Linked DNA regions of Homo sapiens: regions 1 and 3 are each linked to region 2. The links come from fine-mapping of genetic effects on gene expression. A gene starts in region 2. Each other region holds a variant in brackets. All regions are shown on one strand. Distances are between the middles of the regions. Region 1 holds the start of LOC100126584 (a long non-coding RNA gene). Region 2 holds the start of TPD52L1 (TPD52 like 1). Region 3 overlaps TPD52L1 (TPD52 like 1).

Evidence for each region.
Region 1: its variant is fine-mapped to the expression of TPD52L1 in atrial appendage (GTEx, PIP 0.96).
Region 3: its variant is fine-mapped to the expression of TPD52L1 in tibial artery (GTEx, PIP above 0.99).

Annotation. Positions count from the first base shown.
Region 1 is chr6:125,194,982-125,205,671 of GRCh38, reverse strand. All of the region lies in intron 1 of TPD52L1 (TPD52 like 1), which reads right to left. It overlaps LOC100126584 (a long non-coding RNA gene), which reads left to right and starts at 7,855. Exons shown (of 4, transcript NR_149043.1): 1 at 7,855-7,890. The variant G/T (reference allele first, on the strand shown) is at 4,547.
Region 2 is chr6:125,147,793-125,158,482 of GRCh38, reverse strand. TPD52L1 (TPD52 like 1) reads right to left here and starts at 4,710. Exons shown (of 7, transcript NM_003287.4): 1 at 4,513-4,710. The coding sequence starts at 4,531. RefSeq lists an enhancer at 3,327-3,914.
Region 3 is chr6:125,246,900-125,257,589 of GRCh38, reverse strand. TPD52L1 (TPD52 like 1) reads right to left here. Exons shown (of 7, transcript NM_003287.4): 4 at 9,207-9,308; 5 at 3,835-3,873; 6 at 432-492. Among named protein-coding and RNA genes, the nearest start is that of HDDC2, 50 kb to the left of the region's middle. The variant C/GTTC (reference allele first, on the strand shown) is at 6,225.

The DNA of each region.
Region 1 (10,690 bases), 47 kb before region 2:
AGTACCACATGGTCCTAAAGGGTGGAGAATCTTCCAGGAGCTCAAACCAATTAAAGGTTTCAGGAATATACATAAGCCTAAATTATTATCTCTGTGGCCAAGACCTAAGCAAGGACTCCTATTCACCTCCAGAGACAAGAATCTCAGAGAGCCTGAACTGGCTGCTTTTACCCAAGGCCTCCCTGGTCCCATCCCTAGCTTGTGCCTATACAGTATGCTCTTGAAGGCACTGGAAGCTGTGGAAATTTGGAGTGATGGGAAGGACCATCTAAGGTGACACTGCTCAGAAGCGTGGGAGTGGCTGGCTTGGGACATCATTTCACTGGGCTAACTACAGAAAATGTCCCTGCATTAAGACCCAGCTTTCATTACCACATAAGATCAGCCGGCCTTTCAGGTCGGGGTCACCAAGTTTGCTGCATATTTGAGACATATCATATTCCAAGGCTTCACCTGTGTTTTCTTAGGTCCAGAAATTGTATTCCATCAGTTTACACAATGGTGATTAGCCTCTTGGGAGATAATTTCTACTAACAAATCTGCTGGGAGACTGGTTTGACTAGTAGACCAAATACCTTAAGGTAAATTCTGTGCTCTCTTTCCTTCCTCAGAACAAAATCTACTTGAAAAACCAAATGAACAGCAAAAGATTATTTGCTAAACATTGTGGAGAATAAAGAGTTAGGTGACTTAATATTGAAGCACTTACTATGCTGTATTTTAATTCCACAATTCATTGTCTTTTTCTTCCTCTAGATTGTTAGATGCCCCATTCTTCGTATCACTGCTTCCTTGTTCACACTAGGTGTTCAATAAATATTTGGGGAATAATTTAATTAGCTATCATGCCCTTACATTTGTACTATTCAAATGCCTATAAATTAAATCTGATAGGCCTGGCGCAGTGGCTCACGCCTGTAATTCCAGCACTTTGGGAGGCCGAGGTGGGCGGATCACGAGGTCAGGAGATCGAGACCATCCTGGCTAACACGGTGAAACCCCGTCTCTATTAAAAATACAAAAAGTTACCCGGGCGTGACGGCGGGCGCCTGTAGTCCCAGCTACTAGGGAGGCTGAGGCAGGAGAATGGCGTGAACCCAGGAGGCGGAGCTTGCAGTGAGCCGAGATCGCCCCACTGCACTCCAGCCTGGGCGACAGAGTGAGACTCCGTCGAAAAAAAAATAAAAATAAAAAATCTGATAACTAGCCAGGGAAGCACATTTCTTCTTAAAGTGTTGAATATAAAATAACCAAGACTTGCAACCAATGCAATGACCATTAACAAGGGTAGCAAATAACATGTGCTAGAGAAGTAACAATCAGCACGCATCAGTATACCAGCTCTACTAGAACCATCACTCCATTTTTGTTAATGCATCTTGTTCCTTCAAGGACTACATTAAGCCAGGGTCTAGCTTTCATTCTATCAATGTTCTGCTTGAGTTTATACCTTTATATGCTCAGGTAAAACAAATGCTAAAGCCACACTTTCTCAGGAAAACGATAAGTAAGTACAGTGAAAAAGATCAAGATGAATCAGGCTCTTCATTACATTGCAGGTAACACTAGAATGTTAGTTCCACTTGGTAATTAAAGACACCTACAGCAGAATCTTATCCGCCATCCTGACAAGTTGAAAACTGATGTATATCTGGGACTATTTGCAGGAGAAAGGTGTCTCCTCATGTCATTAGGACATAGTTGTGTTATATGTTCTAAGCTCCACCTTAATTTATGTTGTTTAGAATATATCAGTAAAAGACAGCTCTACTTGACTGTGAATATTATTGAAATTGTTTATAAACTGTTTTAGAAGTAGGTCAAGGGAACAAGTATAGAAGACATCAGGTTTTCTACAATGAAAGCCAGAAATACAGAAACTTAGGTTCCTTACAGATGGGGTGGTTCCTCCAGGGTCTGTGTAGAACTTCACTCCAGGGGAGCCAACTGGATTCTCAACCAAAGAGTGAGCTGCTCAGCCCTAAGCTTTTATTCCTGACCTGAGGTCATGTGGCCTTATGCACACACCAAGGGTTTCTGCTGTGTCATTAGCATTTCAGTGACCAAACTCAAAACCATGCAGACAAACAACAGCTCTACTTTCAATGAGAAGATGTAAAATATGTGTCACAAATATCCTCAGCTCCTCCAATTTCCTACATTTCAAATATAAGATTAAAGCATTTGGGATACTCTTCCTATTTCAAACCATTATTTGTACTCTTGAAAGGGACTGTTTAATACACACAAAATAGATGCATTGTGGGTAACACTGCAAGCAAGAAAAAAACACCCCCGACAAAAAGTCACAAGAACACAGCAGCCACAAATTTGGGAAGGAAAAACTAAACAAATAGTTATGCAAAAAAACAAACAAAAATATAGTTAATGTTCCTGATGGATAGGCTCCAGGAACTTCCTTCTGTGAACAAACTCCCATAGTGTATGAGGAAAAATAAAAACTATTGCAGAAATGGGAATAGAAAAACTAAAAATAACCAGACCATCTAAACCTTTAAATCATCCTTCTCTCTGTATCCCACCCTCATTTCCCAACACTCTCCCTGACCACACAAACACATATTCAAATTCACATTTCATGGAACTGGGAAAAGGAAGCCAAACCTGACAAGATAAACCTCCACTGAGAAGCCAAGGTGGGTGGATCACCTGAGGTCAGGAGTTTGAAACCAGCCTGGCCAACATGGTGAAACCCCATCTCTACTAAAAGTACAAAAATTAGCCAGGTGTGGTGGTGGGTGCCTGTAATCCCAGCTACTCAGGAAGCTGAGGCAGGAGAATTGCTTGAACCGGGGAGGCAGAGTTTGCAGTGAGCTGAGATTGGGCCACTGCACTCCAGCCTGGGTGACAAGAGCAAGGCTCCGTCTCAAAAAAAAAAAAAAAAGATAAACCTCCAAATGTAACACTCAGCCTCCTTACATTTTTTGCCCTAAGCAAAAAGGAAAACAGTCTCACTTATTATATTATAAGAAAACTCCAGGGTAATAAATTATTCTGAATTCAAGCTCATTAATAAAAAGTCACTCATTTCAATTAAAATGAGAAGTAATCTCTTCTTCTTCTCCTTCTCCTCCTCATCCTCCTTCTTCTCACACCATCAAAAATAGACCAGAGAACTGATTTTCCACTCATTTCTTTGGTTAGCTGAGTAGCTGCGAGGCACCCAAGCTAGAGTTGAGGGCTGTGGGACCAGTTTCTTATCTCCTTCAACTCCTGAGGGAGTGAGGTGAACACGACCTGTGCATGCCTTGAGCTTCACTGGACAGGATACATTCCATCTTAGGTCATTCCTTAAAGGCTCACTGATCTTATAAAGTGCTGAGTCATCTTTCAGAGCTAGTTCAGGAAAAAATTTTCTTGACAATGAAAGATATTCACTATGAACACAAAGCAGGACAAAATGTAGCTTTTTTTTTCAAGGCATGTTTAAAGAAAGGGATAGATAGTAAGAAAGACTTCCTCAGACAGGCCTGAGATTTTTACAGTTCTCTAATCTTTGCACAACTTCAATGCAAAGGCGAGGGTTAGACAGCGATGCCATGATGCAACCACAAACACATCACGCCTGGACCCATGCCTACTGGGACTGCAGCCAGATTCAGGGGCCTGAACATTCAAAAAGCATTGGTCAGACGTATAGACAGTCTTCCCTTTACTTTAAGCAAATCGGTTCAGTAACATTCACATTTCTTCAATGTCTCTTATCAAATCTTTAGCATTCCAAATAGCTACTACTGACAATGCCCAGGAAAAAAATCCTTTTTCCTTCTGAAATCTGAGTAGCAAAATAAATGCTAAAGGAGATGGAAATATGTGTTTCTGAGTCGTGACATGTTGAGCAAGAATAAAATATGCAAGAATTAGAAAAGTTTCACTCAAGTCACAGACAAGAAAATGCAATGGTGAGATGAAATATGAAAAGACACTTATCCTCACTAGCAATAGGGAAAGCACAAATTAGAATCACAGAGATACTGTTTTTCATCTAAGATATTTGCAAAGAAGCCAAAATGGGATAAGAGCCTGTGTTGGCAAGATTGTGAAAAAATGGATCCTTTAACCACACATTGTTGGCTTTTGCACTGTGACACCTGATTGGGAGAGCCTTTGACACTGCCATCCCACTTTTGAGAATCAATCTTACAGAAAAAAAGGTGCAAACCTAAGGAGAGAGTATAAATCATTGTTGGTAGTGGTAGAAAACTACAAAAACCTAAACGTCCATCAGTAGGGCACCAGTATTCAAGTATAATATACCCACACTGTATACTATTTTTCAGTTATTAAAATTTGTGAAAATAAATATAATGCAAAAGTTGTTGCGACCCCCAAAGCACTTTAAGTCTTGAGAAAGATGTGACTGTGATCTGAGTCACATATGGTTATAATTTCTGTTTCTCAGATTATACATTAACTCACTTTCTTATTTTTCTCGTTCTCTACAATGGCTAGAGATAATTAAATGTCCAGGACAAAAATCTCCTGCCTTCTTAATGACCCTTGCTATAGATTGACTTCCTCTTTG[G/T]TACCTTGCTTTGCTAAGACCACATGACAGAAAACCCATGACTACTATGCCCTCTGTAATGAATGTTAAATGTAACTTTTCCAAAAAGAAACGCTGCCTATAAACCAATCAAATTGCTGTAACAATGTGCCAACCCTGTCTGAAAAATGAAATATGCTAAAAACTTCCCTGTCCCTGACTACATAAATGAAACCTTAATTTCCCTACTTTAGAACGCTGACTCCATTCCTTTGGAGTTGGCATGTTTGAGTTGGCCACCCTCACAATATGCACTTAAATAACCTCTCCTTAAATTGGATTCTGACCCTTATGACTACCTTAGGTTGACAAAATAATGAATTGGATTGACATGTATTGACTAGGAGGAATTTTCATTGTATATTGTTGAATGCAAAAATCAAGTTACTGCATCATATTTGCATCTGCACCATTTGGGGGAGGAATAAAACACCATTTTTATGTGAACATGAACATCCATGCATTTGTATGAGCATTGAGAAAGTTGAGAAAGGATATGTACCAAATTGTTAATGTTGGCTGCTGCAAAAGGGTGAGGTTGGACAGGGAGAAGATGATTCACTCTGTTTTATATTCCTCTGTATTACTTGACTGTTTACAATAAGCACGTATATAACTGTTAATTTTTTTAAAATTTGTATTTACTTGCTCTGCAGATAAATGACTACTGAGGGACATTTAAAAATTAGGACATGCTAAATTATTCAAAAAACCATGTATATCTTTTGTCTCTAGTTCCTGAAAACATTTCCAATATTTCAAATAGATTCTTTACAAAGAAAATACCTACGAAAATCTGTTTGTGGCTAGTGCAATTATAGACAATCTTGAACACATTTTTTTAACAACTGACTGAATCTAGAGCTATTTTTTTAAATAGATCAAACGATCTTAAGAATTCATTAATGCAATTCATGGCATGCTGAACATAAAAGCAGGAAGAGGCCTATGTTCTCTTTCAAAATCCTTCCCAGATGGCAAACAAAGCTCAAAAATGAAAGTCTGCAAATAAGATGACTGAAAGAGGGGTTTAATAATCAGTGGCTTTGAAAATGCATGTTCCCTTTTTAAAAGGTGGCTTTTCAGAAGTTTAGCACAGTAAAGCACCTGTGAAAGGTAGCAATGACCCTGTGTCCCTGCTTACCCAGTCTAGGCAATGAGGTGATGAGCCACTAAGGAGGCTTCCCCTAATGTAATGGAACAACATGGAAATACAATGAAAGTCAAGCTTTAACAGGTGCTCTATGGCTCCAAAGCATCTTTATGTATTTTCTGCATTTTTATGACCTAAGTAATTTTTAATTTTTCACTATCTTATTTCCTATAATTTGTGCTATAAGTGCTCAATTCTAGCACATTTAATTTGTATATTGCAGGCAAGCTAAACTTAATATCTCCTTTACTTTTATTTTGATTTTTTTTGAGATGGGGTTTTGCTTTTGTTGCCCAGGCTGGAGTGCAATGGTGCAATCTTGGCTCACTGCAACCTCCGCCTCCCAGGTTCAAGTGATTCTCCAGCCTCAGCCTCCCAAGTAGCTGGGATTACAGGCATGTAGCACCACGCCTGGCTAATTTTGTATTTTTAGTAGAGATGAGGTTTTACCATGTTGGTCAGGCTGGTCTTGAACTCCTGACCTCAGGTGATTCTGCCCGCCGCAGCCTCCCAAAGTGTTGGGATTACAGGCGTGAGCCACTGCGCCTGGCCTCTTTTACTTTCATTTGACTGAAAATAATTATCTCTGTACACAGAATTTAACATGTGACTTTTTCTTGATCCTACATGATATGCAAATATCAATAATTATTTAGTAAATCATACAAGTCTAGCAAAACATTTTTTATACTACATTACTGGTAAAAATTAAAATCAACAAAATCCAGCTTAGCTCCTTCAATCTATTGTCCAATAAACAAATCGAGTCATTAGAATTATTTAAGTCAAAACCACAAAAACCTTTTACTTTCTCTTGAGAATCAAGGAAGACTTTTCTCTCACAAGAATCAGATTTTGTTTCATAGCAAGGTTTAGATTTGATAGGCTTTTTGTCCTTTAAGTGCTGGTAGAGGTCAATAATGTTAATATGTTAACATGTTCTTATTCCTAAGGATGAAGGAAATCAGCTAAACTCATCTCATCTTGCTATGACCATTTCGCCGGATTTCTCAGCCTCAGCACTATGGAATTTCAGGTAGGGGAACTCATTGTTGTGATTGTAGGGAACTGTGTGTTCACTGCAGGATGCTCAGCAGTATATCTGGCCTCTGCCAACTAGATACGAGTAGTACTCATCCCGTAAGTTGTGGCAATCAGCACTGTCTCGAGACATTGCCCGTTTCCAAAATTGAGCCATTGACAACACATTGAGGAAGCTCTGCTCAACAGACACAGAGACAGCTGCATGCTCATAATTTTGGCTGACACTTGTGTTCACAATGTGTTAGGCACTGTGCCAAAGATTTTATGCACATTATTTTATACACATCCCTAATTTATAAAGAGGAAAATTGACGTTCATAGACAGAAAGTGGTTGAGCTGGGTTTCCCTGCTTTTTCTATACTCAGGTGACCAATAACTTCCATGTGTCCTTGGCATTCTCAGCTTTGGAAGCTGGTCATGTGTTTGTGGTCACGTGTTTGTAAATAGATCTCTCTTACCCCATGCATGCAAGTATGTATGCAGGGATAGAACTGGGTATAACTCTACCCAAATGAGTAAAGATGGACAATGAAGGAAAGGACTTTGAAATTCTCCCATCTCTAGTAAGTAGCTGAAAATCACTTATCACTATAGGTTTCCAACACTATACAAGATGCCTGTGAAGACAATAGACACAGAAGACTCAAATTGCCTGAAAGGGTTTAGAGCACTGTAAGAACCTCCCAGTATCTGATGGCCTCTTGGGTTGTTCCTGCTGTAATCAGGAAACTAACTCCAGACCTCTGTCCCTGAAGGTAGACAGAGCTTCGGCTCCTTCTCTCAGAGGGCAAAGCAGAGTTCAAGATCACACTCAGATCAGCCAGAGTGCCCTGGTCTTGGCTTGAAGCCCAGGGTATAATCCTAGTTCCTGGTAGGGCTTTGACTGTGTTGACCTTCCCAGATCTTGGCTGCTTCTTATTTAACTGGAGCCAAGGACTCACTCAGAAGTTCCAGGGCTAACCGATCCCTTGGCCTGCCTCACACTGACCTTGAGCTGCAGCATTTACCCAGCCTTTCCTGAGTGAACTCCAGCAGTGAGCTGCTATTAATCACACCCTGTTGTAACATCCCCTGCCTCCCTCTTCCATTTCCTTTTCTCTGGAGACACTAGCGCCTGTGCTGTTTCAGGTAATGGACACCCAGATGCCTCTTTTAGACTCTGAAAATTGGATGGGGCAACCCCTCACCTCTGACGCTTAGTGGGCTGTTATTTTATAAATAACATGTTTGTATAACTGATTAGTACTTTATATTATATTCCACCTTGGGTGAAAAATAGACTTTGCTTAAAAAAAAATCCTTCTGACTGTTCTTCCTCTTAGAGTTCTAAACTCTGCACTTTTCAAAAGAGTCTGTTCTTTTGGGCCTAGCAAGCAGAAAGAGGAGAGTGTCTCTTGATCTGGGGGCAAACATTTCCCTAAAATTCTCCTGGTAGAAAAAGAACTCAAAATAGAAGTGAAAATGAGTTGCCGAAAAATAAGAAAAGTTATATTTCTTGCCCTTCTGAGTTTGTGAACTCACTGGATACCTGCTTGATATTGAACTAGATATGTGGTGGATATGTGCAGATTAGAACTATTAAATTAGATTATAGAGAGAACAGACCTACCAAGATGAAAACGTAAAATCATTCAAGGGATTGGAAGGTCAACATGATAACACATAAAACAGATTTTCATCTGGAAAAGGGACATCTCTAGAGACTGTTCATACAAGGAGGCTTATTCAAAGAGAAAGGACAGCCAGCTCTTTTCTCAGCAAGCAAGAAGGCTGGGCTAAAATTTCAGCAAGCATGATTATGAGTCTGTTTTAGGGGATACTTTCAGGTTATAAATTAAATGTAGCTCTCCGTGGTATAGAAAAGCTTGGGAAAAATCTTTTCTGACAACCCCAGTGGGAGATTCAGGACATGATTATTCTGATGAAAGGCACAGATCCGGCCAGATGTCTCTGAGTAGTTTTTCTTTTATTTTCTTTTTCTTCCTGCCTAATGATCTAGGAATATGACTACACTTTTGATACTATGGGAGAGGAATTCCAATGCTGGATCTGCAACTAATTGGCTCTGAGCAAGATTCTTATTCACGCTCACCTCCATACCTCATGTATAAATAAGGGTGACAGCATGTCATACTTATAAGTCCGTAGACACCATGGTGATGAGTGAGGTGGAGAGTCTAAGAATAGTCTGATATCAAATACAGGGATGTGAGGAAAAAAGAAAGTTCTATTTTCAAGGAAATTTGCTACACAGTTTGAACAGAATCTGATAAACACCAAAGTATATATTACAGATAAAATAAGCATTTCTTTGCAAGTTATTAAATGTCATGTGCTTTATATAAGCTAACAGAAAACATAATTCAATAACTTTTTAATGTAGTCCATGTCTTAAAAATAATTTGGCGATCATTGGTCTTGCGTTGAGACAGGAGCCACGACAATAATTATTTAGACTTTTTTGCATTTGCAGGGCACATGCCAAAAGTTGTTTATACATTACAACTATAGTTAAGCTTTTACATTAATGAAGCAGTAATTAAAACTTTGGAACTGCCCCAGGTGTTTCTGTGGCTAATGTAAGCTCATGCTTGATCTTATTTTCTCTCTGTGGCAGTCACAAGGCTTAAGGATATGGGATGAGAGTTTAAAAGAAAATATAAACAATTTTAAAAACAGCTACAACTTTGGAAGCTACAGAAAGCTTATCTTTCCTTGTTTTCCTGAGTCTTTGATGATTAATACATTTAGAGCCAAATTTAAGGGCATCACTCAAGTCCTACTGAATTAGAATCTTTGAGGTTAACCTTGCACATCTGTGTTTTGTTAATCCCCACTGGTGACACTGATGGGCAGCCAATGTCAAAACCCACTGATTTTAAATAATATAGTATGATGTAAGGGGCATTACTGTGAGCTCAGCACTATTCTAGGTCCTGGAGATACAATGATTATCAGAGCAGACAGGGCCTCTGCTCTCCTGAAGCTTAAGAGATGCATATGATGAGCAAGTGGGCAACAACTGGCCTGGCTGTGATAGCGCGAACAGGGCACTGTGATGGAGTGACTGGAGACAGGCTTTGTCACCATGCAAAACCAACAATGGTCTGAGAAGTTGCAGAAAGCCTCTCTAAGATGGGTCAGTGCACTTGGCCTTAAGAAGGAGTTGCTATGTGACATTCCAGAATAAAAGAGATTTCCAGGGAGAGGTAACAGCTAGGTCAGATGCCCTAAGGGTAAAACCTGCTTGGTACCTCAAAGGATCAAAAAGATGCCTGTTGACTGGACCAAGACAACAATGCAATTTGTTCAGTATCATCAGAGAATTTCACGTAAGTGCCTTTTCCATAGATCTAAAATTTACTTAATCTTATACCACTCAAAAATTTACTCATTTTATATAAAACCTTTCTCTCATGGATGGGTGACACAAAATGCAGAAGACATGCTTCTTACTCTCAAAGGACTTAGCGGTCCACAATGTACCCAGTGTGAAAATAAATATGATTTAAAACCTGTTGGAACCCTGAAGACACTTTAAGCCTTGAGAGAGATGTGATTGTGATCTGAGCCACACAGGGTTGTGACTTCTGTTTCTCAGATTATAGAACAACTTGTTTCTTATTGTTCTTGTTCTGTACAGTGACTAGAGAGACTCAAACAACAACAGGGACAAAAACCTGCTGCCATCTTAATGACCCTTGTTACAGATTAACTTCCCCTTTCTTGTCCTGCTTTGCTTAGGCCAGTTGACAGAAAACCCATAACCACTATACCCTCTGTAACAAATGTTATATGTATCCTTCCCAAAAAGAAACACAGCCTATACAACCAATCAAATTGCTGCAATTGTGTGCCAACTTTGTCAGAAAAATGTTGTAATCCTGCTAAAAACTCCCTGGTCTCTGACTATATATAAATGAAACTT
Region 2 (10,690 bases):
GATAAAATTATATAAATGTTCTGTGAGCAAAGTATAATGTAAGGTATAAAGTATAATGTAAAGTATAATGTATAATGTAGAATGTATACTTATAATGTAAGTATAAAGTATAATGTAAAGTATAATGACATTTTCATTTAAAGGACTTTGCAAACAGTAGGGTTAATCTGATATTTATTGCTTTATTTCATTCATGGACATCTGAGACTCTTCTTGAGTGGATATAAAAAATAGTTATTATAGTAAACTGAATGATGGCCCCTAAATATATCCTAATTCCTGGAACCTGGAAATGTTACCTTTTGCAGGTGTGATTAAGTTAAAGGTCTTGAGAGAGAGAGAGATTATCCTGGATTATCTAGGTAGGTGCTAAATGAAATCACAAGTGTCCTTATAAGAGAGAGGCAGAGGGAGGTTTGATGCGAACAGAACAGAAAGCAGCATAACCACGGAGACAGAGAGATTGGAGTGATGCAGCCCAAGAATGTCGGCAGCCACCAGGAACTGAAAGAGGGAAAGACGATTTCTTTCTTAGAGCCTCCAGAGGAAGGACAGCGCTGCCGACACCTTGATTTCAGCCTAGTGATAGTGCCTTTGGAATTCTAACCGCCAAACAATGAGACAGCACATGTTAATTGTTTTAGGCCACGAAGTTTGTGGTAATTTTTACAGTGGCCTTGAGAAACTAACATAGTTATTAATTTGAATATATGCAAATGTTAAAAGGAGACAGTTTTCCTTGTAACATTAAAGACGTTGGGAAAGGTGAAAACAACAAAGTTATTTCCATTTAGAATAATAAAATATTGAAGGGTAGTTTAAAAGGATCAGGAAGTTTTTATTTTAAAGGACTACTGTATGTTTCGGGAAAATGCTACATTTCCAACCCAATTCCCTCTCTAACATATCAGTTGTCTTAAAGCAAAATTATCTGGTACCAGAGGAAAGCAAATAGGAATGCCATTCTCCTGTGGACATCTCTCTCCACGTTGTTCTCCAGCCCTCCTCAGTGAACAGCTCCACCCATAATCCCACTTCCTGTTTAGTGTCCTACCACCTCCCCTGAGAGTCCTCTTGTTTTGCTGGAAGTAATCTATTATTTTACAAAGTCAAAGAACATATTTGCATAATTTCACTTATGGGAAAGTTTCTAGTGCAGTAAGTTGCTGCACTTACTGAGCTATATGGGCGAATCATGTCCATAACACCTTGGTGTCTTCCTGGACAATATGAGGTACAACTCATCAGCAACTGCCTGCTTAATCTCACTTATCTTTACCTGTCTCTAGATTAGCAGGCAGAAAGACAAGCCATCTCCACTCTAGGTAATTCTAAAATAAACTGTGCTGAAGGTGGAAACTTACACTTTAAAAATCACAGAACTGTCTTATCTAGAATCTAAGAGGCAAATCATTCATTTAGCCAGAAAAAATGTGCAAGTGGAAAAAAGATTTCCCTTTAATATATGCTATAAACAGTTTGTGAGAAGTTTTTTCTTAAATAACTCAATATCTCTGCTTTATAAATAACAAAAAGTCTGAAAATGAAAATCTTAAAATGCTAGGCAAATAAAGATTTAAGAGGTAATTATCCTCCATTTGATTGTACAAGTAGGAAGCTGGTCATCCTTGACACTGCCCTCCTTCACATTCAATCCAATTTTGACTTTTCTTAAGTTTTTTTGTTGTTATTCTCTTTTTGTTTATCTGTTTTTGAGACAGAGTCTTGCCCTCTCGCCCAAGCTGGGGTGCAGTGATGTAATCACAGCTCACGGCTGCCTCCACCTGCTGGGCTCAGGTGATCCTCCCACCTCAACCTCCCAAATAGCTGGGATACAGGCACGCACCACCACACCCAGCTAATTTTTGTATTTTTTGTGGAGACAGCGTTTCACCATGTTGCCCAGGCTGATCTCAAACTCCTGGGCTCAAAAAATCTGTCTCCTCCAGCCTCCCAAAGTGCTGGAATTACAGGTGTGGCTGGCCTTTTTTGTATCTCTCTCTTTTTTTTTTTTTTTTTGAGACAAGGTCTCACTCTTGTCCAGACTAGAGTGCAATGCTGGGATTTTGGCTCACTGTAGCCACAAACTTCTGACCTCAAGCAATCCTCCCACTCCAGCCTTCCAAGTAGCTAGGCCTACAGGCACATGCCACCACACTCAGCTAATTCTGTTTATTTTTTGTAGAGATGAGGTCTCTCTATGTTGTCCAGGCTGGTCTCGAACTCCTGGGCTCTAAGTGATCCTCCTACCTTGGCCTCCCGAAGTGCTGGGATTACAAGTGTAAGCCACTGCACCTGGCCTCTTAAGTATTTATTAAATCTGTTCACTTTTCTCATATCCATTTGCCTTTTTACTAGTCCTCTTTACACCTAAAGTTTCCATCCAGTCATGAGGGGAAAGGAAGAGCACCACAGGACAGCTGGAGATTCAGGTGGGGACTGAAGTTTTACCTTTCCTCCAAAAGTCATAGGCTTTGAGTGAGAATGGGTCCCTCACAGCATCCACTTTGCTACTTTTTACCTATCTGGCTGTAAACAAGGAACTTATTAAAAAGTCATGGCAAAAATTGCAATTACTTTTGCACCAACCTAATACCTTCCATGCTTGTTTCCTCTCTGTAGAATGGGAATGAGAATATGAACTACCTCATGGGACTGCTGCGCACAGGAAATGAGTCCATCAATACATGCAAAGCACGAAGAACAGAGACAGGGACACAATAAACAATCTGCTCTTCTGATTATTGCATACTAGGGTTATAGTTTTTCAGGCTCTCGCTGCACTATGAGGCCCTTTCTTAGCATCAGCATGGCAGTGATTTTACATGTTATTTTTCAAATAGCTATCAAATTAATATTTGTCTCTTCCTCTACTGTAAATTTTATGAAGCAGATACCAAGTCTGTCTTTGCTCTTCTTAGCACAGTGCTTGGCAAAGGAAAGCACTGAAATATTTGTTAAGTAAATCTTGGAAGTAAAGCAAAGCAATAAAGCAAACCAGTGACACCAGTGGTTACCAGTCTGTAGTTTCGGATGTCTTCAGAAGTTGTATGAATGTTTCCTATCTGCTATAGTTCTTCTCCATCCTCACTAATATAAGCTTTCAAATATACCCATGTTCAGGTTCCAAAGATTCCAGTTTGACTGGGATGGGGTTGGCCAAGGCCAGTAATGAAGACTCTCTAAATAATTCTAATATGCAAGTCAGGTTGGAAAGCTCCGGTGCTGCTCCCACCAGCTTCAGTTCTGGCGTGAAGGCCTCCAACCTGACCTCTGCTTTTGAATTTGACCAACTGCCCTCACCCTTGGTTGAATTATCATTTCCTATCTACATAATAGAGGAAAAAATATGGGAAGCGGCAGCTTTACGGGCAGGACTTAGGAGGATGGAACAAACGAGTAAGGTTCGTGCTGTTCAGACAATTGTAATCCTGGCAGCAAACCTGTTGGGCGACTCCAGGCCCACGCAATCGCCAACCCACTCTCATTCAGGGCGTTCTGCCCCTAGAGGGCGAGCGCATCAGGTCATGAACCTTTTTTTTTTTCTTTTTAATGAGATTTTATCTATACTAAGAGCCAACACAGAGTTTCCTACTGTGTAAAAGAATGGTGGCTTTGATTGCCTTAAAGGCTGAACTCCGCAAGCCATCCCTTCTGGGCGTTGCTCCCCAAGGTAGATCACTGAGTCCGTTTCCTTCCCACTTGTCTCTCGCTCCACATCCGCCCACCTCTGCCCCTTTCCACGGTCCGTTTACCCCCATTCTTGAACGATTCCATCGGAATTCCCCAACCCTGTTCCAAGTGTGACCCCAAGATATGAGGCCGCCCTTCCTGAAGCCACCGCAGGCTCCTCCAGCAGGCAGCCCCGGGAGCAGGGAGCTGGGCGGCCGGGGGCCCCGCGCGCCACGGGAGGCAGAGGTCGCTCCCCGATCGCGGAAACCGGGACTCACGTGTGGATCTGCTGGAGGTCAGGGGGCCGGTAACGTTCACCTGGCCTCGGAAGGCGGGTCCCCGAGCGGGAAGCGTCTCGCGCAGCCGGGCTGCGGAGCCACCCCCTCGGCGGGCGATCCTCTCACTCCCTAACTTGGGAGCCACAAGCCGCGAGTCCACGGCGCTGGGCGAAAAGAGTCACATTCCCTCCCCACTCCCTCAAGGGAAAGGGAGCGAAACACGCTTTCCGGACCCGGCACAACAGGTCCTTCGGGCAGCCGCGAGGTTGGGAAGGCCAGGGGCGACTGGCTGCGGAAGAGGGTAGAGCATTCCACGGGCGCATTTCCTGAGGAGGGGCCTCTCCACTTACGGATCCCCTGTCACTTTATTGATCCCCAGACCCACAGCAAATCCTGAGTTTGGGCAGCAGGCATTATACCAAAGGCGCGGGTGGGAGTGGAGTTCTGGATGTGCAACACGGCACCAATCTGTTCTGTCCGAGAGCGAAGTTAGGTGGTGCAGGAAAAGAGCCTTTATGCGCGCCCCAGGACCTGACTCTCGGGGCGATCGGCGACCACTCACCTTGTGCCTGCGCCTCCATGGTGGCTGACTTCGAGCTGAGGGCGGCGGGGACACCCTGGTGCTTCCCAGAGCAGATGGCAGCTGCGCCCAGGCTCAGAACGCAGCTGGCCCCGCCGCTCGCTCCCACTCCTGGCACGCGTGTCGCGAGCGCTGCGCGGAGGGGGTTGGGGACGCAGGCAGCCGCCACTAGCCGCTTCTGGTTACCTCCGCCCCTTCCAGTCCACCTGGCCCAAACCAAGCTGGAACAAGCTCGCCGCTGGGCGCCACCTGCCGGCGCTCTGTACAGCCGGCGGAAGGCACCCACTCCCGGCGCTATAAGGGCATAACGCAGAGATATTGCAGGTTAGGTTCCAGACCCCCGCAATAAAGCGAGTATTGCAACAAAACGAGTCACACGAATTTTTCAGTTTCCTAATGCATATAAAAGTTACGTTTGCACTATGCTGTAGTCTGTTAAGTATGCAATAGCACGATGTCTAGAAAGAGCAATGTACCTACCTTAACTTAAAAAGATATTTTATTTCTAAAAAATGCTAAAGATCATCTTCACCTAATGGGAATCTTTTTGGTGGTGGAAGGCATTGCTTGGATGTTGATGGCTGCTGATTGATCCTGGTAGTGATTGCTGAAGGCTGCAATAGCTGTGTCAATTTCTTAAAATGGGACAACAATGAAGTTTGCTGCATCAATTGACTCTTCCTTTTATGAAAGATTTTTCTGTAGCATGCAATGCTGGTTGATAGCATTTTATCTACATTATAACTTTTTTCAAAATTGGAGTCAATCATCTCAAACCCTGCCATTGCTTTATCAACTAAGTTTATATAATTATAAATCTTTTGCTGTCATTTCAACAATGCTGTGAACAACTTCACCAGGAGTAGATTCCATTTCAAGTAACCATTTTCTTTGCTTGTCCATAAGAAGCAACTCCTCAACCATTCAAGTCTTATGAGATTGAGCAATTTACTCACATATTCAGGCTCCACTTCTAATTCTAGTTCTCTTGCTATTTCTACCATATCTGCAGTTACTTCCTGCTTTGAAGTCCTGAACTCCCAAAGTCATTCAGGAGGGTTGGAATCAACTTTTTCCAAACTCCTGTTAATGTTGACGTTTTGACTTCCTCCCACGAATTATAAATGTTCTTAATGGCATCTAGAATGGTGAATCTTTTCCAGAAGGTTTTCAATTTACTTTGCCCACATCCAACAGAAGAATCACTATTAATGGCAGCTATCTATTTATTTCTTAAATAATAAGGCTTGAAAGTCAAAATTACTCCTTTATCCATGGGCTACAAGATGAATGTTGTTTTGCCAGGCATGAAAACAACATTAATCTCTTCGTACATCTCCATCAACTGTTGAGTGACAAAGTATATTATTAACCAATATTAAGCAATAATATTTAGAAAGAAACATTTTTTGAGCAGTAAGTCTTAATAGTGGGCTTAAAAATATTCAATAAACCATGCTGTAAACAGATGTACTGTCATTCAAGTTTTGTTGTTCCATTTATAGAGCACAGGTGGAATATATTTAGCATAATTCTTAAGGGCTTTAAAATTTTCAGAATGGTAAATGAGCTTTGGCTTCAATGTAAAGTCACCAGCTACTTTTGCCCCTAACAAGAGAGTCAGTTTGTCCTTTGAAGCTTTGAAACCAGGTATTGACTTCTTTGTAGCTGTAAAAGTCCTTGGTAGCATCTTCTTCCAATATAAGGCTGTTTCATCCGTATTGAAAATGTGTTGTTTCGTGTAGCTACCTTCATCAATGATCTTAGCCAGATCTTCTGGAGAACTTGCTGCAGCTTTGACATCAGCCCTTGCTGCTTCACCTTACATTCATGTTATGGAGATGACTTCTTTCCTTAAGCCTCATGAGCCAGTCTCTGCTAGCTTCCAACTTTTCTTCTACAGATTCCTCACCTCTCTCAGGCTTTATAGAATTGAAGAGAGTGAGGGCTTTGCCCTGGATTAGGCTGTGGTTAAGAGAATGTTGTGACTGCTTTGATCGGGTTTGATCCAGACCACTCAAACTTTCCCCATATCAGCAAGAAAACTGTTTCACTTCCTTATCGTTTGTGTATTCACTGGAGTAGCACTTCTACTCTCCTTCAAGAAGTTTTCTTTTGCATTCACAGCTTGAATAACTCGTACAAGAGACCTAGCTTTTGGCCTATCTCAGCTTTCAACATGCCTTCCTCACTAAATTTAATCATGTCTAGCTTTCGATTTAAGGTGAGAGACATGTGACTCTTCCTTTCATGTGAATATTTGGAGGCGATTGTAGGGTTATTAATGAGCGTAACTACAATATTGTTGTGTCTCAGAGAATGGAGAGGCCTAAGAAGAGGGAGAGAGATGGGGAAATGGCTGGCTGGTGGAGCAGTCAGAACACACACAAGATTTATTGATTCAATTCACTGTCTTATATGGGCATGGATCAGGGTTCCCCAAAATAATTACAATGGTAACATCAAAGATCACTCATCCCAGATCACCATAACAGATATAATATAATGAAAAAGCTTGAAATATTGTGAGAATTACCAAAATGTGACACAGAGACATCAAGTGAGCACATGGCATTGGAAAAATGGCACCAATAGATTTGCTCAACATGGGGATGCCACAAACCTCCAATTTGTTAAAAACGCGATAGCTCACTCCTGTAATCCCAGCACTTTGAGAGGCCAAGGTGGGCGGATCACGAGGTCAGGAGATCAAGACTTTCCTGACTAACATGCTGAAACCCCATCTTTACTAAAAATACAAAAAATTGGCCAGGCGTGGTGGCACGCGCCTGCAGTCCCAGCTACTCGGGAGGCTGAGGCAGGAGAATCGCTTGAACCTGGGAGGCAGAGGTTGCAGTGAGCCGAGATTAGCCTGGGCAACAGAGCAAGACTCCATCAAAAAAAAAAAAATGCAGTGTCTGTGAAGCACAGTTAAGAGAAGCGCAATAAGACGGGTTGTGCCTGTAAAGGTCTGATACTATGCCCTGGACAGAGGAAGAGAACATGGTTTTACAATACTGAGCCATCACTCTTAGTGGAGATACGAAGGTAGGTTTCCACAAGCCGTGGTTCTAACATTTTTGTCAACTGATCAATACACAATTTTGTTTCTTTATATATTTTAGTTTAAAGACACCTTATTTCATGTATATCATGTATATTGTTGTTTCATTAACATTGAGCTAACAGCCAACAGCACTAAAACTCATACCAGAATCAAGTTTATTAAGCTTATTTAACATATATATTTTCTCTCTAAGGCACATCACAACCTTCTTGCACCTAGGAACACTAGACAGTACTTCAATGCTATCCTGGGGGGCCCAGAAAAATCACCAAAAAAAAAAGGTTTGTTTATAGACTGGAGAGATGAAACAAGAAGGCAGAGCTGCCTTGCTTTTCCTCAGCAGGAAACTTGAATCTTCTGGGGTCTCTATCCATGAGTCCCTGTAGGTTGTACTTGCAGGTTGATGAGACAGTCATGTTTTCAGACAGGACTAGAAATTCACAGCCCTGTTCCAAGGCTTTCCTGGTAATGAGATTAGAAAGCATGACAAGGAGTAAGAAATATCAGCTCCCATCTCTACTCCTCTGGCTTTGGATGTTACAGATCTCCCCTTTTTCTCAACATCTACACGATCTTCATCTGTAAAATACAATGTGGTACTTATTTACATTTGGTCTTGAATAGTTTGCCACTTGGGTTTTTGTTTCCTCTTCCTTTCTTAAAATAGATGGTAAAGTCTGTCAGGTTTGAGTGTGGATATTATGTTAAACCTCCCATAATTCCTGACAAAAAGTCTTATAAAAATTTCATAGCTCAAAAAGATTTATTGAATAAACAATTAACTAACCAGTAGGTTATATTTTATCCATGCCCAAGTTTGCACAGTATAGACTAATAAACATAAATGGAGTCTTACATTTTTTTCTTGAAAGAAGGAATACTACTCATGGTTTCCTGGCACATGTACGAGCACCTCAGTGTGGTTTTTGTTATGTTGAAGATCTCACTGATTTGTAATCATTGCCATTAAAATTACTATGTAGAACACTAAGCATAAGGCTTTTAAATGACTTTTGGTAATAGTGACCAGGGATGCATGAAGTGAAGAATCAGTGATTAAATCACTTTTAAAGTCTATTCCGTTGTTCTGGTCTTCTATACCCTGGAAATTAAACACCAGGTTAGGGTTGACTCCCTGCTGCTAAAACGAGCTAAAAATAGTTAATGACTTCCCAGCTTGAGTCATCTAACCTTCATCTACACTCTGACTCATTTTTCTGATTTATAACATTTTAAGTTGCTACCCTTTTAATTTTTCAATCATTATTTATAATAATAAAATATTGGTATTCATTCCAAAATAGTTATTGAACATCTATATGCCAGGGACTGTGCTAGATGCTAAGGGTATGGGTTAAGGACATGCTCCTTCCTTACCAGGGAGTTCATGATCTGGTGAGAAGGAGGGATAAACAGGTTTTTTATAAAGCAGCGCCTCGTGGTAAGCGCTGTGCATAAAGGGTAAGCCCAGTGCGTCTGTGAGCACTGAGGGAAGCCTCCTAACTCAGGCTGGTGAGAAGTACAGAAATGTTTCTTTCAAAATGCTTGCCTCAGCTGTGTCTTAAGAGTAAAGGAATTAGTCAGGCAAGTTTGTGTTATCCCCCTAATAATGGTTTAGCCAAAGAAGACTATTATTGAAGTTAACATATTATAAAAATGAAGATTTTTCTATTTTGTCTTTTCTTTGTCTTTTCCTTGTCATTTAAGATGGTGAACTTTCTTAACTTCTTTAAAGCTTATTAAAACAGCCACCTTCACCCTCTCCTTTGTCTCTATGGCCACTCCAGATGCAAAACGCTGTGCAAGTGTTTGATTGAATCAATGAAATTCTGTTTAAAAATACCTTACTTAATGTATTTTGTTGCTTTAACATTAACATTGGTGTTGACATTAACATTAACATGAGACAGTCATGTTTTCAGACAAGACTAGAAACTCACAGTCCTGTCCCAAGGCTTGCCTGGTCATGCGATTAGAAAGCATGACAAGGAGTAAGAAATATCAACTCAGGTCTCTACCGATAGCACTATAACTCATATAAGAACGAAGTTTGTTTAGAAAGTTGATCATTCTATAGGGGTGAAATGCAGTAGAAATCTCAACTGTCCAAAGGAAATGTGTATTCAACAGTTTTTACTTACACCAGTTCCCGGTCACTTGTAATGTATGGGTCTGAAGGCATCGTGGGAGGTGGACAGGGCACAGAAATGAGAGGAAGGAGTAGAAAGGACAGGTGAAGTGTGCTGCTCTGGCCTATGAACTTTACAAATACATTGAAAGAGAACATGAGCTTTGGGGCTCCATTAGATTCCCACTCTGAAAACTACCAGCTGTATCACCTAAAGGAATTGTCTCAGTCTCTCTGTGCCTGGCTTTCTGCATTTGTGTCACGATGCTATATGAGGTATTAATGGGCATGTTCTTTCCCTCCTATCCCACTGGGCACCTGTGCTTTTAAAGCAGTGGTTCCCAGTCATCTTCTACATCAGCACCACATGAGTGGCTTTTAAACATTTCTGATACCTGGGTTCTACCCCACAAGTATTCTGATTTGTCTTTTTAAATCTCTCTCGGTGATACTGATGTGCTTCCAAGATTGACAATGACCATTTCAGAAACTGTCCACAACAAAGATGAAAGGTTCTATAGTCTCAGCTTTTAAATTAAAACGTTGTCACCCAAGTAAACAGAAAATAATGAAAAAGAAATATGAGCAGGCAGCACAAGAATTTTTACCCCTAATTCCAGGGGAGTTGGAGAGGAAAAAAACATTGGGGAGGGCAGAGAAGTATGAAAGATTTAGACATGGCTCTGTCTACAGATTTCACCCTTCTTCTCCTTACTCCCATGAGAGCAAAGAGAACCTGGCCTCGACAATTGCATTGAGAACTCTGATGGCCAGATAGTTTTGAGAAACCTTAGGGATAGAACAAGTGCTCTTTGTCACTTTGAATTTTTCACCCTCTCAAGTGGTGTAGGAAGCCAGAGAGGAGTTTCCTTGAAGCCCCAGGTAGGGGGTGGAAGTTAGTGAGGAGAGAGAACTAGCTAGTAAGCCAATATCCCCAGGAGGCTGGAGAAAGGCAGCTTCCATTT
Region 3 (10,690 bases), 99 kb before region 2:
GCTGACGGGTAGTGGATACGTAGTCCCCAGTTTGTTTTTGCTGGTCCATGTCCAAACCAGAGCAGCTCTGAGCTGTTATTGAACTTTCACTCACACTCTAAATTCAGAATTCATATAGCCTTTATCCTATCCACAGTCATCTCTCACATATCTACTTTTGGAGGGATAGCATTAAGAGATTAAGTGGTAAACGCATACCCCAATTCACTTTAATGAACAATTCACCCCTGAATGGTTTATACAAACAACTCTAAGGATATAGTAACACTATTCAATAGTGGTTTTATTCATAGATTTATATGTGAAAGAAAAGGTCTGACTTGATGCAAGCCTGCCTTCTTGGCCCTGCCTCGACTTTAAACTAACCGCAGCAATGGCTAAGCTGTCCTGAGTCAATGGACCCACTCACACAGAATTCACTTCATCTGTACCTTGAGGCTTGTGACAGTTGTCTCAACCCTCTCCTCAAATGATTTGAAAGTAGGAGAATTCCTAAAATAACAAAAAGAGAGAGGTCAGCTCCAAAGGCCTAGCTGTCTTAGCAACCATGCTGTTTGGTTTTCTGCTCATATCTGTAAACACGGCCTCTGCCACAGAGCTACCTGTCAGCTTGCCACCTGCACCAACCACGTTTTAAAATGTATGTCACTTCTGTTAGGTTAGGTTCAGAAACCATAACCTGACATGGAATTTTTCTAGGTAAAATGATCAGTACACAATACAGTAAATAATATGGTATTTGGCAATGACACAACTGTAATAATTCCATGGTACACTGTAAATCATTTCCAATGAGCCAGTGGAGCAATGGGTAGCTTAAGTTTTCATTTAGCATTTATTGTTTCTATCACAACACTCCTCTTCCTGACTCAGGTTTTTTAGTAAGCAATGGAAAATCCATATGATGAATGTCATGTTTGAGTTTTGCCACTTGGCATTTTTTAAAGTTATTTATTTCAGCAAATGTGAGACAATTCAGAAATAGTGCAAGGAAAAAAATGTTCATATATTTTTTCTTTTCCATGCCTTAAAAAAATAATCATTTTGACAACTTACATGAAGTGGTGTTTTGGAAAGTTAATGCTTTCATTATTTTAAGATGAAACATACCCATTACCTACCTAATGCCCAATCAAAATGGAGGTTATTAGCATGCGTTATTTTTCCTCTCAAATAGATATACCTACTTGTTCTCTTACCAAATAGAACCTTTGCAGCCTAATGGCTTTTTTTTTCTTTTTTTTGATAGTCTCGTTCTGTCACCCAGGCTGGAATACAGTGAACTGATCTTGACTCACTGCAACCTCTGCCTCCCAGGTTCAAGCGATTCTCCTGCCTCAGCCTCCTGAGTAGCTGGGACTGCAGGTGCCCACCACCACATCCAGCTATTTTTTTTGAATTTTTAGTAGAGATGGGGTTTCACCATGTTGGCCAGGCTGGTCTCGAATTCTGACCTCAGGTGGTCCACCTGCCTCGGCCTCCAAAAGTGCTGGGATTACAGGCGTGAGCCACCGTGCCTGGCCCCTAATGGCATTTTATTTGTGACTCATTCATTGTATTAAATAATCTATACATAATTTTGTTGCTTTAAGCACTAAAAACTTCATTTGGTGCTTTCTGGTTTTCTGTATTGGATTTGGCCCCATGATATTATAATTTAATGACATCACCACCATTAAAAATACCACCAGCTCCTACTAAAGAAACAGGAACTGAACTAAGTGTATTTTAAATCTTGTATCCATGTCAGCTTTCAGCAGCAACAACTGCCATCATTTTCAGATCAAATAATTCAACTAAATGTTGAATTAATAAGGCACTTGTTATTCTCTCTTGAGTGCAAAAAAAAAAAAGTAAAATAAGAGGAATGGCCTAGAAAAACTTTATAAAGGAGAACAGCTATAGAATATAGGTTTCATTATGTGGTGCAGAATGAAGTATCACTTTTATACTACTAAAAGGCAATGAACATAGATGTTTATGAGTGAATTTGGGGATTGTCTCCTGAGTCCTTGGTGCTCCACATGGTCAGAAATGTACCTGCATTCAGGCTGTACAGATTAACAATGGTGAATTCAGAGGGCCCTGACATGGCATCACATTTTGTGTACGACTCAAACACGAGTCAAATTCCTATGAGTGATCCTCCGTAATGCTGTTTCATGATGAAATGTTAGTAAAATTATACTTGCATGACTCAAAAAGTATATAGTTATTGGCACTTCATTTCCATTGCAGGTTTTATTTGGCCAAGCCTGCACACATGACTGCCTGTCATCCATCAGTTACACAGGCCCACAGTGAGGAAATGGTTCATGGGTATATGTTAGACAAGCAAAATAATTTTTTTTTAAGTTAGTTTCAGGCAAGCTCATGCAGACTACATTTGACCCATTAGCCACTACTAGATGAATTCCTGGTTCACAGGGGAAAACCATGTTAATTTTTACTAGCCTTCTTCTGACACCCAGATTTAAAATTTGACAAGTAAAGGGGAACAGAGCCTTAGGTTCCACTACCCAACTGGGGCATTCTTATTCTAGGGAGAGCAAGCCATTCAAAGATGAATTAAGCAATCTTGAATCTGTACTCTCTGTTTACCACCAAATACAGAGAACTAAATACTGAGGGTGAATTTCCAAATCAACCAATTAACCACATAACCCCAGTGTAGAAGAGCCTTCCTTCATAAAATATAATAGAACAGACATTTATCTAATTAAATTATACTAGAATACATGCTGGAGAACAGGGAGAAGCTCTTTAATCAGATTTAATCAGATGTACAACTTTAATAAGATTTAATCAGATGTACAAACTTTTTTAGCACTGCAAATGACCCTAGGAAGAATTTCTCTTCATGACAGTTAAAAAACAGAGGAAAAGATTATATATATGAAGAATTTGGCTTCGGCGGTCTCAAACTATTGAAAGTAACTAAACTCCTTCTATAATGCCTTCAAACAACAACATCAATATAAAGCAGGTAGAAGAGGCATAGCTCTGACTGAAGTGGGGGAAGATCCCAAAGGCTTCATCTCTAGGCAGCCTTAGGGCTCGGTGGGTGGAGGGGCATCTTTGACAAGCAGCTAATCTGGTTCTAGCCTCTTATTTTAAATATGATGAAGCTGATACCATTGAGGTGATTTTCCCAAGAGTGCAAAGTTAATCCTTGGCAGAGCTGGGCTAGAGCCTGCATTTTCTGATTTTCAATTTAACACTCATTCCTGTCTTGCTATTAGTTTAATTTTATCTGATTGCATCACTATGCCATGCAAACTTGAAGTTAAGAATGTCTTTCTCACCAGTTTTTATCTGGTCAGTAATTATACTGACATTTTATTATTTAACAAACATCTCACCTTAATATCCACCTTAAAAATCCTAATGATATCCTCTCTAGAACTTTAGCCTTGCATTTAAACTTGCCCCCAGGCTAGCATTTAATTCTGCGGAAATAAGAAACCCAAGTTTACCTTTGCAAGATTGCTTGGCATGTTCAGACACTGTGCTAAATGCTTTATGTAGGTTCCTTTGTTTATGCCTCACAAACACCATATGAAGTAGGTCTTATTTCTTGCAATATATGGATAAAAGAATTGAGGTTAAGTCACTTGTCTTGGATCACACAGGAAAGACTAGATTTAAGCCAGGATGTCTGGTCAAAAGCCCAAGCTACGCAATTCTTCCACAGAATTGTCAGCCTTTTCTTTTGAAGACCATCAGCAATTTCCTTTCACATAAAGCAGAGGAACCCCATAAGTAAATATAAATAAAATAACACCTTAAACACATTTCATATTAATATTACATAAAATATTTTACACACATTACCTCATAGCAGGCATACTTATGGAATGGCGAATGGAGTAACTTCAGAGCAAAAGCAGATTAAAGGGGAAAAAAGAAAAAAGAAGAGAGCACACATAAGTACATGAAAAACTCCCTATTCGTAGTTCTAAAACAGCAATTCCAAATATCTGAAATATTCCCTGCCCATCTAACCAAGATGACATTTGTTTTTGTTGGGTATAATGGGTATAGTCAGCTTTCAAGGGTATAAATGAAAAGTAGATGGTGGATCCGTGGTTGCATATTATTTTACTTTCTGCAGCCTCCTTTTGCCAGGAAATCTGAGAATGTCTGGTTTCTCCCAGGTGAGCCCAGTAGCCCATGGGCATCTTCTCCAGGCCCAACTTAGGTCTCTACTCCCTTCTGCTCAGGAAAACAGTAAGGAGCAAAAGGCAGTATCCAGGAAATAGAGCCAGGCAGGTAGAAGCTAATCATTCCATGGTAGAGAAACTGGCCAGAGGAAAGCAAGAAGTTAACATAAGACTTTCAAGGAAGCACATGCCAGGCAAACACAGTTCTCATAGGCCATAGGGACTTCTGCATCCATTCTGGTTTGATTGTCAAGATGATTGATTTGTACTAGATGACTGTCAAGAACATCTGGTACAAACACAAACATTCCTGAGAATTTTAAGAGATTTAAACTTCTCATCCCATTAATCCTAGTAGCTGATTCATCTTCCCTCTGGTTGGTTGCCTGTTACTTTCTATTGAGTTCCACTCAGAAATCAGGCTGGGCATGGGGAGGAGCACAATGGGTCCATTTTCCTGGCCTAGTGCTTGCTCCCACCTCACACTTTTCAACAGCGTCCCTGCTTTCTCTTCTCTCAAGGAGCTAATAGTTCAGGGACCAAATCTGTCACCCTTCCCTCATAATATCCACTGAGGGCATTAGTATGGGTAGCACTTTGCTAGAACACAGAAAGAAAAGGACAAACAAATTCATGGGATACTTACGGTCTTACCCTAGACACTTGATTTAGAAACTATTAGGCAGATATTTCCTCAGAAATTACACTTCAAAAGCATCACTAAAAGAGCCTCATCTGCATTACCAATTGGTGTATCTCTGTAAATATAGACCGCTTTCTTAGGAAAAAATTAAAAAAATAAAAGTATATAATAAGATTCCGGCTAAAAGAAGTTTTAATTCGGGGGCTTGGGATTAAAAATCACAAACTTCTTAACATACGTACGTGCTTTTCCGGTACCTTTCTTCCCTTCAACTTCAGAAGGCACAGAAAGTTGAAGGTGAAACATCAACACAAATTATGGGTACAAGAAATTCAGAGAAACATGACAATCTAGAGAAAATCTGTTTTTGTTTCTCAACTTTACTTTCTAGAAGTTTCAGAAAACATATATAACTTTCAATCTCCACTTTGTTTTTTTTTCTTCTTCTTTTCAATTCTAAGAAGCTCTGTCAACACCGGAAGAAATGGTGCAGAGAAAGAGACTCCTGAGAGAGAGCTCAGCAAGTGAAATGGTGTAAATGATTCAGAAATGAGATAGAGATGTACTTCAATAAGTTCAAATGTATTAAGTGCCCTATAAACTATCTTCCTGGTCACGGGAACTGTCTGGAAAACAGAGTGTAGTTTTGTTGGTTCAGGCACAGTGTGAAAGAAACAGGGAGCCCTGGAAAGCAAAGGGGCAGCAAGGGAGTGGGGAAAGCCCCACACGCAGCCCTGTGGCGCTTACCCGATGGAGTGAGACCTGCAGCCCGGAAGCACAGGAGAGAAGAGCAGGAGCAGAGTTAGCAAACAGGAGGCAGAGAAACACTGCACTGCCCTTGGTGGTCCCCTTTCAAGGGCCCCAGAGCACAGACAGGGTAGCTTCATTTACCACTCTTGATTACACTGACTTTTTAATGTCTCTGACAAATCATTTTACCAACTCAAGTTTTGCTTCTGTTATTCCTATAAGTATATAACAATGATTGGACTGTAATAAAATGACATGCCTTCTCCAAACATTTTGTCCCCAGTGGATCAGTTTGAACAAATTAACTGAGAAGTTCCCAGAAGATGCCAATGTTATTAGAAAAATGATTCCAACCGCTTGGATTTCTTCTGAGTACTTTCCTAAGTGTGACCTCATTTTAACTTCACAGGAAATATTTTGGTTAAGTGGGTATTAACAATGTTATTTTATGGATGGAGAAAGAGAGTGGGCAATTCCATGACAATCAGGTTAAAATGAGAATCTTACTTAGCTCAGAAAAATATAACTTATTTTTACAAAACATACAAATTAAATCTTAACATAAAGCTTTTTTTTCAGCTATTAAAAGGCCCAAATTCTAGGTTTTACAAAATCTGTAAATATTAATTTGGAGTTATTTTAAAGAAAAACTGAGAGGTACTGTTGTT[C/GTTC]TTCCAAGCTATCTGAATTTTGCTGGTAATGTTTTTGAATACATTCAGAAATTTGTTACCAGAATGCACAAAAATGTTATAGTGTAACTAATAAAAATGTAGACTAATATGACACTTTTAACCAAAAAGAAGTTTAAAATAAAAGGTCTGTGACCAAATTTTAACATATTCCCCATATTTACAAATTGGCACATTAGTTTTTGAACAAACAATCAAAGCTTACTATTTTTTCCCATTTAAGGTCTTTTATTAAGTTTAAACACTTTCAAAATGACTTTTATTTATATTACTTGTTTGGGCATAATTTAAAAGTAAAAATCTTTGTAAAACTTGTTGCTTTCACAAAGAGTTATTCTCATTTATATACAAATGTTAGATATAGTTTGAGAGAAATATACACATAAAATATTATATAAATAAAGCTCTGAAATTTTCAAACTCTTCAAAATATTTCAGGATTGTATTTGATTATCTAGCAACACAGATTGTATTTTCCAATATTTTTAGCCACAGTTTATAATGAAAATGTTGTACCCTCTACATGGGATAATAACAAATGGAAAGTTTGGAAGTCCTGGAAAATAGGCCATCCACTATACTAGACAAAGCCACATTGAAACGGGAGGAAAGGCAGTCAATACAACCTTGACATTGTACCCAATTAGTGTTTGAATATGAATGCCAACATATTGCATATGTGAAACACAGTCTTCATTCTTCACTATTGGGAAAAACAATGAGCAGGGCCTTTATGAAATACAGTGGGCTCCTGTTAATGTACTCTCCCTAATTTCTACCATGTGGGGCCATCTTGTAACTGAGCTGGTCACTTAAAGATAAAAAACTGCAATTTTTTGAGTGCATAATACATGTCAGACTTTCTTCTGCTACTTTTATAACAGTCCAGTGACATTGTTATTCTTATCTCCATTTTATTAGTGAAAACCCCAGATACAGGTGAGCTAAGCTATGTCTGTCTTCCTCATAAACTGACCCTCTGAAGCCAAATTATCTGGAAGCTTGTTATAAATGCAGATTCCTAGACTCCACCTCAGACTTACTGAGCACAACCTCTGAGAGGTGCAACCTAAGAATATGTATTCTAAACAAGCTTCAGAGGTGTTTGTAAGATCTCCTAAAGATGCAGAAGCACTATTCTAGTTAGCAGTGTCATGCTGGAGTTCCCAGGGTTCAAGTGAAAGATTTCAACACAGTATGAAGAGAATCAATTTTATAAACATGGGAAAATATGTTTTCTTGGGTATAACAGGTTATAGAGGGTTTCCTATTTTAAAGGATTATTTAATTAGTTTAGATAAATGTTATAACGCCGTTAAAATTATTACAAATTTTATTTGTAATAAAATTAGGGGTAATTAATAATCCAGAAGGTTTACCTGTTTATCACACCTGCTTCTGAAGAATTTCAATTACTTTTTATTATTGTGGCATTAGTAAAAATGAAGATAAAACAATGTACTCAGATTCATGCACATGTCCTTGTGAATGCCTAGTTGTTAAAATAGTGAATGAATATTGTGGACAGTCCAGCAATTTTTGAAGTAAATAAAATTTAATAATATAATTTATAAAGATGTATCTATAAGTGTAAAGTTAGGAAGATATTTGCCTCTCAGTGTCAAAGCTTTTCCTTCTTTTTTTTTTTTTTTTTTTGAGACAGAGTCTCACTCTATTGCCTAGGCTGGAGTGCAGTGGCGTGATCTGGGCTCACTGCAACCTCTGCCTCCTGGGTTCAAGTGATTCTCCTGCCTCAGCCTCCTCAGCAGCTGGGACTACAGGCACACACAACCATGCCTGGCTAATTTTTGTGTATATATATATATTTTTTAATGGAGACAGGGTCTCACCATGTTGGTCAGGCTGGTCTCTAACTCCTGACCTCAAGGGATCCACCTGCCTCAGTCTCCCAAAATGACGGGATTACAGGCATGAGCCACTGTGCCCAGCCCAAAGCTTTTTCTTTTTAATAAAAAAGTAACAGTTTAAGAATCCAGTAAAATAAATACGCAGAGATTTTTTTTTTTTAAAGAAGAAATGTAAAATGTGCTCGAAAAGTTTTTAAAGAATAGAGGGAAAAATGAAACTGATTTCTAAAGAAAAATCCTCCAAGGCATATCAGCCAAATGCAAAATAAAACTATGACTGGTATTTAAATAAGCAAAAACTAAGAGTAATACCTCTATATAATATGGTATATAATATATTGTATATAATATTGTATATAATATGAAAAACTATGGGCAATACTACATTTTTTTTTTCCTGGTGCCTCCAGTGAGAACTTTTGGTTCTCAAGTCAAAATCAACCTTGATGGTCACCCTTATTTTATGTAACAGTGAAATATTGAAAATAATGAAAATGTGCAAGGTTACTTATCTAAAAGCATTGCTATAGCTACGCACTGGGAGATAAATTCATTAAAAATGAAGGTGCAATAAATATTTAACATACTCACAAAATAGTTAGAAAATGAAGAAAGAAAACTACCAGAAGTGTATATGTGTGGTACCTTTATGGAATAAAAGGATAAATATGTACCTATTTAACACAGAAAAAATATACTAGATGGATGTATACAAATATGCAATCTAGAATAGTTTATGGGAGTGCATTCCACTAAATGCATGTTTTAATTTATCATTTATATTACAGCTAGTAAGAATTTGCACATGCTGCATTCTTTTCAAATCTGCCTCACTACCCTGTATCTTCTATTTTTACCAGGTCGGGTCCTAGTAGAAACAGCAACTCTGGGACCAGGCCACCTAAGCCTGACCTTCAGGCAGAAAATGTCCCAGTGTGAAAATTTATCTTAGTCATCAATCATATCAGCCATATAACATTTTTATCCATTAAAATAAAAAAATACATATGTTGAGATGAGCAGCTAATAGCTAGTGCTCCCTTCAATCGGAAAGCCAAGGGCTTAGCGCCGTTCCCATGGTATTTTCCCACAGTACCTCATGTCTCCGAACTTCTTGCTGATGGCCGTTCCAACGTTGCTGAAAGCTGCAGTTGCCTTTTGCCCTGCGTGACTCAGGGTTTCATGTGTTTTCTTGTAGCTAGAAATAAAACAGAACAACATGGTTTTTATATCATGATCTCCCATAAACAATTCATCTTCCTTCTCACTCCTTACTTTGAAAATGTCCTTTCCTCAACAGATTTAGGAAGAAGATCCACAAAACCACTGTTTCCATTCATTGTCTGGGGATGATGGGTTGGCTGCTGTTCATCAGAAGGAAAGTCAGACCATTAAATCTGAATTTAGGAAGTATATACAGATACAAATACAAATACAGATCTGAATGTGCAGCTCTTTCATGACAAATAATGGAACTGCTCAGTGAGCAGAATGTTGTTCTTGAAGTGTATTAGTTCTAAAACAGACACTTGTCAATGACAGCTCTAGGCATCAAGGATGACACAGAAATTAGAGAATGCAGGTTTAGGTTTTGAAGGTACATCTAAGCTTACACTGTTAATTTGGGTAAAATAAGCCAGAAAAAGGCAAAACACAGCTAGTTATTTAGCTTACTTTTCTAGTATTTATAGCTGGGAATAATAAAAGCACATTATCTGAAGATAATATAGTGACTTTTTTTCAAAACAGTTTTAGGAATATATACTGTGAATATTTGTTGATAAGCCTATGTCATACTAGACTTGACTACTTGAGGGCAAGGAAGCCATTCATCTTTGTGTCCCTGGTCTCTGACAAAGGGATAAAGAAGAAACTCAATAAATAGTAGATGAACGAGTGGGTGATATCAAAAGGGACAACCTTTTGTGACTCTGAACTGGGAGTAGTGGCACTAGGAAAAGAAAGAGGTATGATGGATTACAGGGATAGAATGGACAGATTCAACAGGAGATGGTAAGTGATAAATAAGAGCAAGACCAAAGGTTGTCCTGAGGCTGTGAGCATCATGACAGGAAGGACAGTGATGCTACCTATAGGGATGAGAAATTTCTGAGTTGGTTATGAAAGTGGGAAATAAAAGGTACATAACTTGAGGAATAATAGTAAATCAACAAAATTTTTATACACATTAAAAAAAACCCTCAAATCTTAAAATGCATATGCTGTCTTCTTCTGATTTATGCTGCTCCCAGGTAAGTTCTCCCAAAACCCTGTTATACTTGCATGCATATGGTATCTGTAAGAAAACATTATACCCTATGAAATCAGCTATGTAGGAACTGCCCTTTTTCCTCTACCCCTTCCATCTCCCACAAGTCATCCAGTCCTAAGTATGATCTCAGGCTCTAGTGAATATTTTCAAATATGTGCCTTGGTCTTCCCTAGGACAGAAATAACTTTATTAATGTGGTATTCTTTTTGTGAGCAGAATGGAATCTGTCTATAATATTGTTAGCATTATATGTTATTTATTAACACAATGTTTTTTTAGGAAGTATAAAAACATACATTAACTAGATC